Regions from separate parts of the Homo sapiens genome. Here region 1 is linked to region 2. Evidence: fine-mapped expression QTL. A gene starts in region 2. The other region holds a variant in brackets. All regions are shown on one strand. Distances are between the middles of the regions. Region 1 holds the start of LOC124901106 (a long non-coding RNA gene). Region 2 holds the start of RPS14 (ribosomal protein S14).

Region 1 (8,330 bases), 25 kb before region 2:
TTTGAAACTGATGTAAAGAGGATGGTGAAGATCTGCTACTCATTTTACAGCAAATCTTGTAGAACTATTTGATTCTTGTTTGCTTGTTTGAGGCGGAGTCTCACTCTATAGCGCAGGCTGGAGTGCAGTGGAGCGATCTCGGCTCACTGCAGCCTCTGCCTCCTGGGTTGAAGTGATTCTCCTGCCTCAGCCTCCTTAGTAGCTGGGACTACAGGCTCGTGCTACCATGCCAGGCTAATTTTTTTGTGTTTATAATAGAGACAGGGTTTCACCATGTTGACCAGGCTGGTCTTGAACTCCTGACCTCAGGTGATCTGCCCGCCTCAGCCTCCCAATGTGCTGGGATTACAGGCGTGAGCTACTGCACCCGGCCTGATTCTTTAGACTATGTGAATTTACAACTTCAATACAAGGTAAAACTAAATTTATAGTTTTTTTTGTTTTGGGGTGTGTGTGTGTGTGTGTGTGTGTGTGTGTGTGTGTGACGGAGTCTCACTGTGTCACCAGGCTGGAGTGCAGTGGCGTGATCTCAGCTCCCTGCAACCTCTGCCTCCTGAGTTCAAGCGATTCTCTTGCCTCAGCCTCCTGAGTAGGTGGGATTACAGGTGCCTACCACCATGCCCGGCTAATTTTTGTATTTTCATAGAGACGGGGTTTCACGATGTTGGTCAGGCTGGTCTCCAACTCCTGACCTCAAATGACCTGCCCACCTCGGCCTCTCAAAGTGCTGCGATTATAGGCGTGAGCCACCGCGCCCAGCCTAAATTTAAAATAAAGGGAATAATGCATCACAGTCACTAGATTCTAAACCAATGGTGATAGAATGGCAGTCCGAACTCTTTTCTCTGTGCAGCAGTTTCAGGACACAGCTGAGGGAAATCCCACGGTCATCCTGCCCGTGCCCTTGGAGGTTAGAGACTGATGCCAGCCAAGAGGGAGGGTCCCAAGACTGAGTTTCCCAGAGGGCGTGGACAATGGCTCCCTGCATCTTTCCTTACAGGGTAAGAAGTCCCAGTTTCTCACTTGTCACACAGGCTCCACCGCCCAGGGAAGGAGCCTTGTCCCACCTACCCCTGACCACAGGAGGAGGGAGACAGAGTAACAGGAAGCAGTGGAGCTTGGATGCCACACCCTGATGGGGAGATGGAGTAAGGTGGAACCCAGCTCCACAGAGTTTCATACAGAGAAAGTATGACTTAGAGAGGGGAAAGGAACTGGCCCAAGGTCACACAGCAAGGTCCCCAGAACTGGAACTGTTCTGCAGTTTGCATGAGTGTGAAAAACAAAAGAACTTGAGGCAGACTGCCTGGGGCCACATCCCAGCTTCCAAATGGCTGGTTTCAGGGCTGGAGATGGGGGAATGCAGGTGATGCTGAGACATCTCTGTTTTTTTCTTTCCAGAAAGCCAAGAAGTTCTCAAAGACTCCTGGGGCTTGAAAGAAGGACCCAGGAGCCAACTTGAAGGGGCACCGCCAGCCAGATACGGAACAATGCCAGCCTCAATAAGAATAATTTGGCCAGGCCTGGTGGTTCATACCTGTAATTCCAGCACTTCAGGAGGCTGAGGCGAGAGGATTGCTTGAGCCCAGGAGTTCAAGACCAGCCTGGGCAACATAAGAACCCTGTCTCTACAAAAAATTTAAAAATTAGCAAAAGCGTGGTGGTGTACACATGTAGTGCCAGCTACTTGGGAGGTTAAGGTGGGAGGATGGCTTGAGCCCAGGAGGTTGAGGCTGCAGTGAGCTGTGATTGCATCATCACACTCCAGACTAGGCAACCGAGCAAGAGACCCTATCTCAAAATAATAATAATAATAGTAATAATAATTTGTCCTGCCTCTTTAGAAGGAGCTGTAGTTCAATCCCAGTTGATGAGAAAAAAACTCTTCTTTACAGAAGAGTGCAAGCTTCTTGCATTTCTGCAGAAGAAAAGACAGAAATAGAAAATCATCTTGTTGTAACCCTTCGTAAAATAATTGATCAATAATTGATCGTATAATAATTGACAGGATTATCCAGGGAGTCAGAACCCTGGGATGAAAGGCTGGGGGAGGACAGAACAGTCACATGCCAAAGAGTCCACCTGAAGCCTCTTGCTGGTTGCCAAAGGGGAGAGGTGTTTTACAGTAGTAAAAAATGGTGCAGTCTTGCTGTCACCACCTCAGACAAGTGATCAAATTTAGCATCATCAATAGTGGAACAATCTGACATGTGTCTCTGGATGGGATATAATAATAATAATACTCAGCATGAGCTGGGCAGTATCTTTACTAAAGATTGTTAACCTGAATCTGCCTTTTTTTTTTTTTTCTGAGACAGAGTCTCACTCTGTCACCCAGGCTGAAGTGCAGTGGGGTAATCTTGGCTTACTGCAACCTCCTTGCCTCCCTGGCTCAAGCAATCCTCCCACCTCAGCCTCCCAAGTAGCTGGGAGCACAGGCATGCAGAGCCACACCTGGCTTTTTTTTTGGGGGGGTGGTGGGTATTTTTAATAGAGACAGGGTCTCGCCATGTTGCCCGGGCTGGTCTCAAACTGTTGACCTCATGATCCTACCACCTTGACCTCCCAAAGTTCTGGGATTGCCGACGTGAGCCACAACGCCCAGCCTGAATCTGGCTTTGGACCTAAACTCCAGTTTAGAGTCAATACAGGGGGTAGAAGAACAAGTTAAATAACACCATGAAGAAACAATCAGATATATCCAGGGACAGCCTATAAGATAACACCTGCTGCCAGGCACGGCGGCTCACGCCTGTAATCCTAGCACTTTGGGAGGCCGAGGTGGGCGGATTGCCTGAGCTCAGGAGTTCGAGACCAGCCTGGGCAACACAGTGAAACCCCGTCCCTACTAAAATACAAAAAATTAGCCGGGCATGGCAGTGTGCACCTGTAGTCCCAGCTACTCAGGAGACTGAGGCAGGAGAGTTGCTTGAACCCGAGAGGTGAGGTTGCAGTGAGCCGAGATCGCGCCACTGCACTCCAGCCTCGGTGACAGAGCGAGACTCCGTCTCCAAAAAAAAAAGATAACACCTGCATTCTCCAAAGAATCAATGTCACAAAAAAAGGTGTATGTGTGTAGATACATGGGGATCTGTATTTTAAAGGATTTAAAAAACAATAAACCAAATGCAATTTGTAAATCTTTGTAAGATGTACGATTTGAAAAAAACAAGTATAAAAGATTTTTTTTTTTTTTTTGAGACGGAGTCTGGCTCTGTCGCCCAGGCTGGAGTGCAGTGGCGCAATCTCAGCTCACTGCAAGCTCCGCCTCCCAGGTTCACGCCATTCTCCTGCCTCAGCCTCCCGAGCAGCTGGGACTACAGGCGCCCGCCACTACGCCCGGCTAATTTTTGTATTTTTAGTAGACACAGGGTTTCACCGTGTTAGCCAGGATGGTCTCGATCTCCTGACCTCATGATCCGCCCGCCTCGGCCTCCCAAAGTGCTGGGACTACAGGCTTGAGCCGCCGCGCCCGGCCGTAAAGATTTTTTTAAAAGCAGGGAAATTTGAATATCAGATGGACATTTGGAAATTGTTATTGATCTTCTTAGGTATGATAATGAAGTTTTAGTCTGGTAGGAGAATTTTTTTAGGAGATGAGGCTGAAGTACTTGGAGGTAACATGACATGATGTTTGAACTTATTTTCACATTGTTTAGAGAAGAGAGAGAGAGTGGCCGGGTGTGGTGGCTCATACCTGTAATTTCAACACTTTCGGAAGCTGAGGTGGGAGGATTGCTTGGGAAGGCAGCTTGAGGCCAGGAGTTTAAGACTAGTCTAGGCAATATAGAGAGACCTTGCCTCTTAAATTTTTTTTTTTAATTAGCCAGGCATAGTAGTGCGTGCCTGTAGTCCTAGCTACTCAGGAGGCTGAGGCAGGAGGATCGCTGGAGCCCAGGAGTTCGAGGTTGCAGTGAGCTGTGTTCATGCCATGGCACTCCAGCCTGGGTGACAGAGCAAAACTCTCTCTCAAAAATAGAAATAAAGGCCAGATGCAGTGGCTCACATTTGTAATCCCAGCACATGGGGAGCCCAAGGCAGAAGGATTGCTTGAGCCTAGGAGTTCAAGACCAGCCTGGGCAACATAGTGAGACTCCATCTCCACAAAATTTTTTTTTTATTATCTAG[G/A]CCTGGTGGCAAACAACTGTAGTCCCAGCTACTCAAGAGGCTGAGATGGGAGGATGGCTTGAGCCCAGGAGATGGAGGCTGCAGTGAGCCGTGATCACACTACTGCACTCCAGCCTGGGTAACAGAGACCCTGTTTCAAAAAACTAAAAATAAAGACCTAGGCATGGTGGTTCATGCTGTAATTCTAGCACTTTGGGAGATCAAGGCAGGCAGATCACTTGAGCTCAGGAGCTTGAGACCAGCCTGCGCCACATGGTGAAACATCATCTCTACAAAAAATAAGCCAGATGTGGTAGCACGTGCCTGTAGTCCCAGCTCCTTGGGGAACTGAGGCAGAAGAATTGCTTGATCCCAGGAAGTCAAGGCTGCAGTGAGCCAAGATCATGCCACTGCACTCCAGCCTGGGTGACAAAGTGAGACCGTGTCTCAAAAAATAATAATAAATAAAATTAAAAGTAAGAGGTCAGACACAGTGGCTCACATCTGTAGTTACAACCCTTTGGAAGGCTAAGATGGGAGGATCCCTTGAGCCTAGGAGTTCAAGACAAGCCTGGGCAACATGGAAAGACCCCATCTCTACAAAAAATGTTAAAAAAAAAAAAAAAAAAAGAAAGAAAAAAGAAAAAATGAAAATAAAAAATTCACCGGGCATGGTGGCATGTACCTGTGGTCCCAGCTACTTGGGAGGCTGAGGTGGGAGGATCACTTAGCCCAGGAGATTGAGGCTGCAGTGAGCTGTGTTGTGCCACTGCATTTCATTCAGCCTTGGTGACAGGAGAAGACCCTGTCTCCAAAAAAAAAAATAAAACAAAATAATAAAATAAAACACAGAGAGAGAAGTGAAATTGATAGTAGTTGAAGCTAAGTGGTGGGTATCTGATCAATTTTTCTGTATGTTAAATTTTTTCTTAATAAATGGTTAGAAAAAATTTTAAGTCAATTATGTACAAACTCAGTTTCCTTTGTACAGGAATTGTCCTCACTGCCAAGAAGACATTGTTCATTCCCATTGTGGTTATATTGACAACTGGGGGACAATGGGCTCTTTTACAGCATAGGCACATAATGTGTGTGTGGTTTTTTTTTTTTGAGAGAGAGTTTCGCTCTTGTTGCCCAGGCTGGAGTGCAATGGCGCGATCTCGGCTCGCCGCAACCTCTGCCTCCTGGGTTCAAGCGATTCTCCTGCCTCAGCCTCCCAGCCTGTAGCTGGGATTACAGGCATGCGCCGCCCCCGCCCAGCTAATTTTGTATTTTTAGTAGAGATGGGTTTCTCCATGTTGGTCAGGCTGGTCTTGAACTCCTGACCTCAGGTGATCTGCCCATCTCAGCCTCCCAACATGCTGGGATTACATTATGGTCCCCCATGCCTGGCCCATAATGTGTGTTTTAATCCTCATCAAAATGTCTCAGTACTTTATGAGAAGTTTTCTATTTTGTTTTTCAGTTTTGTGTTTTTTTGTTTTGTTTTGTTTTGTTTTTGTTTTGTTTTATGGAGTCTTGCTCTGTCACCCAGGCTGGAGTGCAGTGGCGTGATCTTGGCTCACTGCAACCTCCGCCTCCCGGGTTCAAGTGATTCTATTGCCTCAGCCTCCCAAGTATCTGGGATTATAGGTGCCCACCACCATGCCTGGATAATTTTTTTTTTTCCATAGAGATGGAGTTTCACCATGTTGGCCAGGCTGGTCTTGAACTCTTGACCTCAAGTGATCCGCCCACCTCAGCCTCCCAAAGTGCTGGGATTACAGACATGAGACTCTGCCAGTTTTCTATTTTCATAGGAAAAAAATTCTAAGTCAAACCACTTACCAGATGTATGATTTTTAGCAAGTTACTTAAATCCTTTGTGCCTCAGTTTCCTCACCTGTAAAATGGGCATGCTAATAGAACCCATCTCATTGGGTTGCGAAAGGATTGAGTGAAGTAATACACACATGGCTGGCATAGAGACAGCGTGCAATACATGTCAGAGAGTTCAGCAATATGTTCTTTTCCATAAACCTGTTCATTCTGAATCTGGGACCCTGTGCATGTTCAGAGATTTGGAGCTGCTCAACAGAGCCAGAGGGAGCCTCATCCTCCCTCTCTGGACTTTCCTGGGGGTCTCATCTCGGGAGTCTCATCCCTGGTGTCACCCCTGAGCTAGTCTGAGTGACTCTCTAAGATGCCTGCCCTCTTTTGGTCTGGACACTCCAGGCCCCAGAGGTGTGAGTTCCTACCAGTTCACCCTGGGTGAGCCGGGCAGGTGGAGTCTCCTGAGACCTCCCCTTCCCCATTCTCCTTCTTGGTCCCTGAGTCCCTGATGAGCTGCCTCAAGAAGCAGGCAGGCAGTGTGCACCCAGCCCTGCCCACCAGCCCACATGGCCCAGCCCACCCATCTTGTGTGGGGCCTCTTGGACCCCAGTACACCTTGGCCACGAATAAGGGGCTGGAAAGGGGGCTGTTTGTGTGGAGGGAGCAGGCCTGGGCTCTAGTCCTATACCTTCCATATGTGCCCCAGGCAAGTATACATCATCCCTTCTCTCACTTGTTCAGCAGTTATTTATTGAATACTTTATGCCAGGCACTGTTCTAGGAGCTTGGGATACATGGATGAACAAGGCAGACAAGTATCCCCATCCGTATGGAGTTTACATTCCAGGGGCAGGAGACAGGTCAGTAAATTATACTTTTGTTAGAGAGTGGTAAGTGCTATGGAGGAAAGGAAAGTTGTTTCTGGAGATGCAGGGTTGGGGGCAGGTTGTAGTCTTTGATAGGGTGTTGGGATGGGCCTCATTGACAAGGTGAGATTTGAGCATAGGCCTGAAGGAGGGGAGGAAGTTCACCAAGCCCACAACCGGGCAGAAATCACAGCCAGAGCAGAGGTCCCATGGTGGGAATGTGTCCGGCCTGGTTGACGAACCACAAGGAGGCCAGCATTGCTGGGGTGGAGCGACTGAGAGGAAAAGGGAGAGGGAGGGACAGACGGGAGGTCACGAGGTGTGCAGCCAGATCCTGCAGCCACCCACTGGACTTTGGCTTTATGCCGAGTGAAGCCGGGAGCCGTGGGAAGGCTCTGAGCAGAGGAGTCGCCTCCTGACTCTTGCTGTGAAAGGGTGGCTAGGGCTGCTGCGTGGGGGATCTGTACAAGATGGGCAGATCATCCCCGTGCCTCATGGGCTGCTGTGAAGGTCACGGGGGGACACTGGACAAGGAAATGCTTAGAAACAAAAGGCCCTGACTGTGGTTACAGGGCTTCCAGGAGAGAGAGCTGAGTGGCTCTGCTCACAACCGTCTTATTGAAGGGTCAGTGGAGCTCAGGAGAGGGTTATAATTTGCCCAGGGTCATATGTTCTACAACCAATTCAAGATCGGGGACTTCCCACTCTTCTCCCAGGGCAAATACCATCTGGCAGGTGGCTAAGTAGTGCAGCCTTTGGACCTGTGATGGCTGTAGTGCGGCTGACGGGGACTGAGTCCTCCCTTGAAAATCCATTCACTCCACAAATATTTGTTAAGTGCCGGTTATGGGCCAGGCACTGATCTGGACTAGAAGCTGGGACCTAGAGATATTGGGAGACACCTGGCAAGGGCTAAGTCCTGGTCTCTGGTGGGGCTGGTTTCTGGTGGGGCTGGTCTCTGGTGGGGTTGGTCTGTCTCTGGTGGGTTTGGTCTGTCTCTGGTGGGGTTGGTCTCGTCTGGTGGGGTTTGGTCTCTGGTGGGGCTGGTCTCTGGTGTGGTTGGTCTCTGGTGGGGTTGGTCTGTCTCTGGTGGGGTTGGTCTGTCTCTGGTGGGGTTGGTCTCTGGTGGGGTTTGGTCTCTGGTGGGGTTGGTCTGTCTCGGGGCTGGTCTCTGGTGGGGTTGGGCTCTGGTGGGGTTGGGCTCTGCTGGCGCTGGTCTCTGGTGCGGTTGGTCTGTCTCTAGTGCGGTTGGTCTGTCTTTGGTGGGGTTTGGTCTCTGGTGGGGTTGGTCTCTAGTGGGGTTGGTCTCTGGTGGGGTTGGGCTCTGGTGGGGTTGGTCTCTGGTAGGGCTGGTCTCTGGTGGGGTTGGTCTGTCTCTGGTGGGGTTGGTCTCTGGTGGGGTTTGGTCTCTGGTGGGGCTGGTCTCTGGTGGGGTTGGTCTCTGGTGGGGTTGATCTCTGGAGGAGTTGGTCTCTGGTGGGGCTCAGTCGGTCTGTGCAGGAGTCAAGTGTTAGAGGCCACACTACTGAAGGCTGGTGTTGGACT
Region 2 (8,330 bases):
GCCTGAAAGCCAGAGACTGCAGTAAGCTGAGATAGCGCCACTGCACTCCAGCCTGGGTGAGAGTGAGACCCTGTCTCAAAAAAGAGGAAAAAAAAAAAAGCCAGACAGTAAATATTTTAGGCTGAGGGGGCCACTATGGTTTGTTGTTATGTTCTGACCACTGTCTGGCTTGTTCACGCAACAGTCATCTATTTCAGCTTTCATGCCCCCATCACTCAAATCCAGGTCCTTCCCCTCTCCTACAGGACTCCACCTCTTCCCCTCTGACTGCACCTCATGCCACTCTTTCCTTCACAGGTGCCCAGGTTCACCCCCACCTCAAGACCTTTCCCTGCAGTTGTCTCTAGCTGGAATACCCTCCTCCTGTCCTTATTTCACTGGAAGGACTCCGGACTTATCATTTAGACCCTAGTTTAAATTACACTTTATCACCAACTCCTTACTTGTGCTTCCTGGCATTTGTCACAAATGAAAACCACATACTCCCTGGTGCTCTGTTGTTTAAAGTCTGACTCTCCCACCAGCCTCGGTCCCACACAAGGAGGGTAGAGACCATGTCTGTTTCCCCATCACTCTCTTCTAGTACCTGAAACACAGCTCCTAGTATACAGTGGGTGCTCAACACTGAGCTGCTGGGGGGTGTACACAGGAGCCAATTATTAAGTATGTATATGCCTAAAATATCTTGTTCAAGGTCACAACAAAAAACCCAAACCTCAAATCCAGGTGCTCCAGCACCCAAGCCCAGCAGGTTTTCTACCACCCAGCCATCCCCTCTGCGACTCGTACCTATTTCCTCCTGTGGCCCGGAGTTTGATGTGTAGGGCGGTGATACCCAGCTCCTTGCACCTCTGGGCCACATCCTGGGCAGCCAACATAGCAGCATATGGTGAGGATTCATCTCGGTCTGCCTTTACCTTCATCCCACCAGTCACACGGCAGATGGTTTCCCTGGGGACAAAAGCACAGGGTCATTTCTTCCTCGTCCAACAAGGAGTGCTTACGATATCCTAATGAGTGAAGAGCAACACAGCTCAGTCATGGTGGAGGATGATGGTCATGGGCTCTGCCCTCATGGAGTTCAGTCCAGTGGGGTTGAATGGCCCAATATAGCTATACTCAGTATTAACATTTTATATATCTACTTTTGCATTTAATCCTTACCATTACTCCACAAGGTAGACATTACTGTCCTAATTTTACATATGAGGAAACCAAAACTCAGAATCTGAGTGATTTCACACAAGTCACAACTTGCTAAATGGCCGTCGAACCCGCACCCAGAGCCCACTTGCAGTCCACTGCTGCTCCTGCAAAGGGAACTAGGGAAAGAAGATAATTCCCAAGAAACCAAGGATTCAATGACCATCACGCTGTAAGGACGAAGAATGTGTCTCCTCTCTTGTAACCCCTGGGAAATCACAATATTTGTGGGCTAAATGGACAAGCACATTTTCTTACCTGGACAAAACAGCATTTCTTTAGAGAGAATCCCCTGAACTGCTAGCCCGTCCCAGCCATTGCCTTCCTCAGCCTTTTGCCAGCTGGATGCCTCTCCACCCAGGTACTCACTTGCCAGAAAGATCAGTGACATGGACAAAAGTGTCATTGAAGGATGCAAAGATATGGCAGACACCAAATACATTCTCTCCTTCAGCCACCTGAGGTCCGAGGCTGATGACCTGTTCTTCCTTCTTTTCCTTCCCCTTTCGAGGTGCCATTTCTGAGTGGAAGGAAAAGAAACTCAAGGTTAACAGACAAAACATTTCCAGAATCCCTTTCCCCTGGCTATTAAATGAAACCCTAGTCCTGCTTCATGTCCCTGTCTTCTTCCATCCAATACTCTACTGTATTCTCTCATTTCTGCCTCACTAAAACTTCTTTCTCCTTGCACTTGGGGGGGTATCAACTGTGGCCACATGGCAAAGTACCATGAGAAGTATCCTTTCCCCAGAAACTACCAACAGCTCAGCTCACAGCACCTACAAGATAGAAGCCTAGGGATCTAGCAGCAGATGCCTGAAGGCTGCACCCCAAAAGGCAAGAAGAAACCCAAGACCAACAGCTACCCATGTACTGGTACCATTCCTAACACCCTTCATGGGGCGAGGGAGCTGCTTGATTCCTGCATGAACTCCTCAGCTTAGAATTCAAGGGACCCTTACCAACACAGCCCTCAAGCCTCTCATCTCCTGTTTTCCTGTGCTCCACCTGATCCCTTCAAAATGTTCAAAAATGCAACTGATTTGACTCCCACAACTATTTAGAACTAAATCTTTGTCACCAACATCAAATATCAAAGGCACTAAAATATATCCAAAAGGCAGGCTAATGGAAAAGACCCATCTCAGAAATCTGATGGGTCCTGAGACTAAATAACTCTAACCTATTATGACCTTCATAATAATTGCAATCATACTGTCACAAGATCTAAGGGAGAGAGAAACTGACAGGAGGAAGGCGGGTGAGAATGAATGAGAAAGTGGAAGGCTAGGATAAGACTGCTTCCGGCCTAAAGCCCCAGGCCTTCTGAACCTCCTGGTGTTCAGAACAATTTAACATTTTCAGAAGACACTAACACTAATCGATATCCTGCAGATGGTGAAGATAGAGAGTGTCTCAGCCTATGGTCACAGTAAAGACAGTGGCAAAACCAAACATAGAAACAACGTGTCCTGACTCCCAGCCCAGCACTCTCTGCCTCCTGCCAAGATGCCTCTACACCACAAATAACTACCCTAGTCTGTCTCAGGTGTTCCTAGATCTCTCCTCTGCCTTCCCTATATAAACTTTAGTTAAGTGTGTGACCACAGTAAGTACTTCAAGTGTAAGTCTTGGGTGTACGAAGTTAAATGTTCCTATCTTCAAATCAGACCAATGAGCACGACCCAGTGCGTTAACTATTGTAAGGAACGCGCCACAGGAGAGAAGCCCAAAGTTCTGCCTCGAGAAGCATAGAAAGGCTCCAGCATATCTCAAATACGTAAGCATGAGTATGTTTCGGCATGATGGCCATTCAGTAAATGCCAATTTGCAGTTTCTCCGTTCCTAACATCCCCTAAAGTAACGAGCAGAGTGGTCATCAGGAGTATATAAACGCAGGGCAAGCGCACAGCAAACATTGGTGCTGGGCCCTGAGCGCCCAGAACTTGCAACGTGCCCGACTCAGCAACGGAAAGAATCGCCCAGATTTAGAAGCATCCAACATAGTGCGAGAGTTTTCCCTGCTTTCCTTCTTTGAATGATCACTACAAACCCATGGGATCGGTGCTATTGTTATTCCTATTTTGCAAACGAGGAAACAAACGAGATTAGGCGTGGGCCTGCGATCACCAAGAAAAAAGTTTGGCGAGGTAGAGGCGGGAGCCCACGTCTGTCCCGGGTTCCCTCAACTACGCTGTGCAGCTCAAACGCGGCCGTGGCCGTGGCCGTATTGCGGGGCCGAGGCCTTAAAAGGCTGGACCCGCACTCACCCTTACTTCACAAGCTCCTCCCTGAAAGCAAAACGGGCCTTCTGAGACCAGGAACGAACTCAATCCCGAGTTGGCCAGGATCCAGGTGGGCCAGCCGCGCGTCTCTTGCCCGGCACCTAGCTCGGTTCCCACGGAAAGACCCCCGTCTCTCGTCCCAAGCCCCACAGGGTCCCCTCGCCGCAGGATGCCCCCCGATTGTCGCGCCCGGGCCTCCTACCTGCACGTCGTCTCCAGACTCCACACCGGAAAGAGAGAGTGGGAGGGGGCGGAGCGACGGGGGTCACTTCCGTGTCCCGGAAGTATACCTCTGAGGTCACGGGGCGAGGTCGGGTTCCGGAAGACGCCGGCATTATTCCTCCCAAAGAGTTTAAGACTCGTCATAAGGAAAGACGGTTTATTACTTAAGGGAGAGCGAAAAGAGGTAGAGGGCTGGTTGTCGCTGCGAGCGGGTCGGCCTAAGCGACAGTACGAAGCGGCTACACCCGCGGGGTGAGGTGGGCCTGTATTCCATGATGGCGGTGGTCGTGGCTAGACAGACTTCCGCCATCCTGACTCCCGCCCTGGCAGCCTTGGAGCGGCAGCGCCCCTTGTGTGGAGCAGGGGAATAACAACAACAAAACGGCCTTAATTAAAGCTAGGGTGGCGCCGGCCTGTGGTCCCAGTTACTCAGGAGGCTGAGGATCGCTTCGTCCAAGTAGTTCGAGGCCAGCCTAGGCAACATAGTCGGGGAAAACACACCGTAATCACTTACTTTGGCATATTATATAATGGGCAAAATAAGAATAAATTATTCAATATGTATTTTCAGACCGGTCTGGGCTAAACAGTTTATATGCATTGCTTCATTTACTCCTCAAGACATTATCAAATAATTTTGATTTCCCTCTTACAGATAAAGGATGTTAACTGAGAGCACACCTTTGCAGAAGGGTTTGGAATTCTAGCTTCAAAGCCCTCGTGTTTAATAGCTACTTCCACATAGCCCTCTAATAACAATATACATGTATATATTTCGACCGAATCTTGTTCTGTAGCCAAGGCTGGAGTGCAGTGGCGCAATCTCGGCTGACCGCAACCTCTGCCTCCCAGGTTCAAGCTATTCTGCCTCAGCCTCCCAAGTAGCTGGGACTACAGGCGCGTGCCACCACGCCCGACAAATTTTTTGTGTGTGTGTATTAGTAGAGACGGGGTTTTACCGTGTTGACTAGGGTGGTCTGGATTTTCTGACCTCGTGATCCACCTGCCTCGGCCTCCCAAAGTGCTGGGATTACAGGCGTGAGCCACCGTGCCCAGCCTCTAATAACAATATTGAAGGACCTTGAAGGCTTGGGAGAATATGTCGGAGCTGTGGGGAAGGGCCAAGAAGTGTACCTCACAGAGCTAGGCAAGCGGTAGATACATTTTATCTATGTACTATATGTAATATTTATATGGAATATATATAGTATTTTTGTATTACATACTATATAAATATTATAAATATATTTTAAATATATAAATATATCCCGTGGCTCCAGCCTGGGTGACACAGCGAGACCCTGTCTCAAAAAAAAAAAAAATTTATTCTGCTAAACTGAAAAACTCAACATACCTTCTTTTTTTTTTTGAGACGGAGTCTGGCTCTTGTTGCCCAGGCTGGAGTGCAGTGACGCCATCTTGGCTCACTGCAAGCTCCGCCTCCTGGGTTCAAGTGATTCTCCTGCCTCATCTCCCGAGTAGCTGGGATTACAGGTGTGCGCCACCACACCCGGCTAATTTTTGTATTTTTAGTAGAGACGGGGTTTCACCATGTTGTCCAGGCTGGTCTCGAACTCCTGCCTCAGGTGATCCACCCGCCTCGGTCTCCCAAAGGGCTGGCATTATAGGCGTGAGCCAATGCACCCAGCCTCAACATACCTTCTCGTTGCATTGCATTTCTTCGATGATGAGTGACGTCAGACATCTCTTTACGGATTGTTTTAACCATTTGCATCTCTTCTGTGAAATGTCTGTATTTTTTGAAGGAGAGGGCTTTTTTGTTTTAATGAGCTTCCCAGTATGTTAGCAGAGACTGGAGTATTGTGGAGTGAGTTCCGCTTTGATTAAGAGTTGTATTAAACAGACCTCCAAACCTCATGTGGCTTCATGGAGGGAGCAAGCCTTGATCTTATGGCTGAAGGCAGCCCACACAATCACCTCAGGACAAATTTTTCCACAGGGAAGCCTATCTTTATCCCAGAAACCATCAAAGTCACTGCTTTCAAACTCCACTTTATTTAATCAACATATTTATTGTTTCTGCAGTTATTAGCTATGGTTCTTTGGGCAAAAATTGTAACCTCTCTGGGCTTCAGTTTTCTCATCTGTGAAATGGGATGATAATAGCATATTTTTATTTTTATTCATTTTTTTTTTTTTTTTTGAGACAGAGTCTCACTGTTGCCTTCCCCTGCCTCAGCCTCCCTAGTAGCTGGGACTACAGGCACACACCACCACACCCGGGTAGTTTTTTTTTTTTTTTTTTGTATTTTTAGTAGAGACGGGGTTTCACCATGTTGGCCCAGGCTGATTTCGAACTCCTGACCTCAGGTGATCCAGCCCCCGCGGTCTTCCAAAGTGCTGAGATTACAGATGTGAGCCACCGCGCCTGGCCGATAATAGTACATTTTTAAATGTATGTTGAAAACTTCAGGGCTCAGTGGCTCACGCCTATAATTCCAACACTGTGGGAGACTGAGGCAGGAGGATCACTTGAGCTCAGGAGTTGGAGACCAGTCTGGGCAACATGGTGAAACACCTTCTCTACAACAAATAGAAAAATTAACCAGGTATGGTGACCTGCACCTATAATCCCAGCTACTTGGGAGGATCACCTGATCCTGGGAGGTGAAGGCTGCAGTGAGCTGTGATCACACCACTGCACTCCAGCCTGGGCGATAGTGAGACCCAATATATATATTTTTAAAATGTGTAATGAAAACCTGTATCTTTTGTGTTTTGAGACAGAGTCTCACTCTGTCGCCCAGGCTGGAGTGCAGTCGCACGATCTCAGCTCACCACAACCTCCTCCTCCCGGGTTCGAGCAATTCTCCTGCCTCAGCCTCCCAAGTAGTTGGGATTACAGGCGCCCTTCACCACACCTGGCTAATTTTTTGTATTTTTAGTAGAGACGGGGTTTCACCATGTTGTCCAGGCTGATCTTGAACTCCTGACCTCAGGTGATCCACCAGCCTCGGCCTCCCAAAGTGCTAGGATTACAGGCATGAGCCACCGCACCCAGCCAAAAACCTGTACCTTTATTGGACGCTTACTCTTTGTCAGGCACTGAGATACAATCATGGCATTTGAACTGAGACTTGAAAGTAGAGTAGGAATTAGCTACGTGAAGGTGTGAAGAATGGTCTGGGCAGGGAGAATAGAATATGCAAAGGCCCTGAAGTGGGTAGGTGTTTGGAGAACTCAAGGAATTAAAAAATGGCCAGTAGTACTGGGGTGTTGTGAATAAGGGAAGAGGAATGGGGGCTGAGGCTGGAGGGGCAGCACAGCCACTTTCCGTGGGGCCTCACCTCACTGTTGCCATGTCTGCGTTCCCCACCCCACCGCACCCCTGCGCTGTCAACACTGCCAGCACAGGGGTGTACTTACCCTCCCCTCTCAGAGCTCACACACTCACTCAGGGAGCACTCACTGAGCACCTAGGATGTGTCTGACATTGTAAATACTTGGGATACATCAGTGACAAAAACAATGGTCCCTACCCTCTCAAAGTCTACATTCTGGAAGGAAGAGCAGACATAATGTCTATGTAAGCTTCCTATTTTGTTAGAAAGTGGTCAGTCCTGTGGAAAGAAGAAAAAGTTGGCCAGGTGTGGTGGCTCACACCTGTAATCCCAGCACCTTGCATGGCTCAGGTGGGCAGATCACCTGAGGTCAGGAGTTTGAGACCAACCTGGCCAACATGGTGAAACCCCGTCGCTACTAAACATACAAAAATTAGCTGGGGGTGGTGGCAGGTGCCTGTAATCCCAGCTACTTGGGAGGCTGAAGCACGAGAATAGCTTGAACCTGGGAGGCAGAGGTTGCAGTGAGCTGAGACCGCGCTGTTGCACTCCAGCCTGGGCGACAAGAGTGAAACTCCATCTCAAAGAAAAAAAAAGAAGAAGAAGAAGAAAGAAAAAGTCAGGCTGGGCGAAGGGTACTGAAGGTCTGAGGAAAGGGGTGGGGTGGGTGGCTGAATTAAACAGAGAGGGCCAGGCAGCCTTGCTGAGGAGTGATTTGAGCAGAGCTGTGAGGTGGTGAAGGGGTGGCCTGCCCCTCCACACCTGTGGGTGTTTCTCGTCAGGTGGGATGAGAGACTGAGAAAAGAAAGAGACACAGAGACAAAGTATAGAGAAAGAGTGCCAGGGGACTGGCGCTCAGCATATGGAGGGCCCACGATGACACCGGTCTCTGAGTTCCTTCAGTATTTATTGATCATTATCTCTACCATCTTGGAGAGAGGGATGTGGCAGGACAATAGGGTAATAGTGGGGAGAGGGTCAGCAGGAAAACGTGTGAACAAATGTCTCTGTGTCATAAACAAGGTTAAGAAAAAGGTGCTGTGCTTTGATGTGCACATACATAAACATCTCGGTGCATTAAAGAGCAGTATTGCCGCCAGCATGTCTCACCTCCAGCCCTAAGGCGGTTTTCTCCTATCTCAGTAGATGAAATATACAATTGCGTTTTACAACGAGACATTCCATTGCCCAGGGACGAGCAGGAAACAGATGCCTTCCTCTTACCTCAACTGCAAAGAGGCCTTCCTCTTTTACTAATCCTCCTCAGCACAGACCCTTTACGGGTATCAGGCTGGGGGACGGTCAGGTCTTTCCCTTC

The links.
Region 1: its variant is fine-mapped to the expression of RPS14 in whole blood (TOPMed, PIP above 0.99).

Annotation. Positions count from the first base shown.
Region 1 is chr5:150,421,206-150,429,535 of GRCh38, forward strand. LOC124901106 (a long non-coding RNA gene) reads left to right here and starts at 854. Exons shown (of 2, transcript XR_007058994.1): 1 at 854-1,001; 2 at 1,402-3,140. RefSeq lists enhancers at 6,613-7,114, 7,115-7,614, 8,253-8,302. The variant G/A (reference allele first, on the strand shown) is at 4,129.
Region 2 is chr5:150,446,013-150,454,342 of GRCh38, forward strand. RPS14 (ribosomal protein S14) reads right to left here and starts at 3,727. Exons shown (of 5, transcript NM_005617.4): 1 at 3,691-3,727; 2 at 1,573-1,723; 3 at 790-951. The coding sequence starts at 1,721. RefSeq lists enhancers at 3,244-4,182, 3,796-4,115 and a silencer at 8,130-8,330.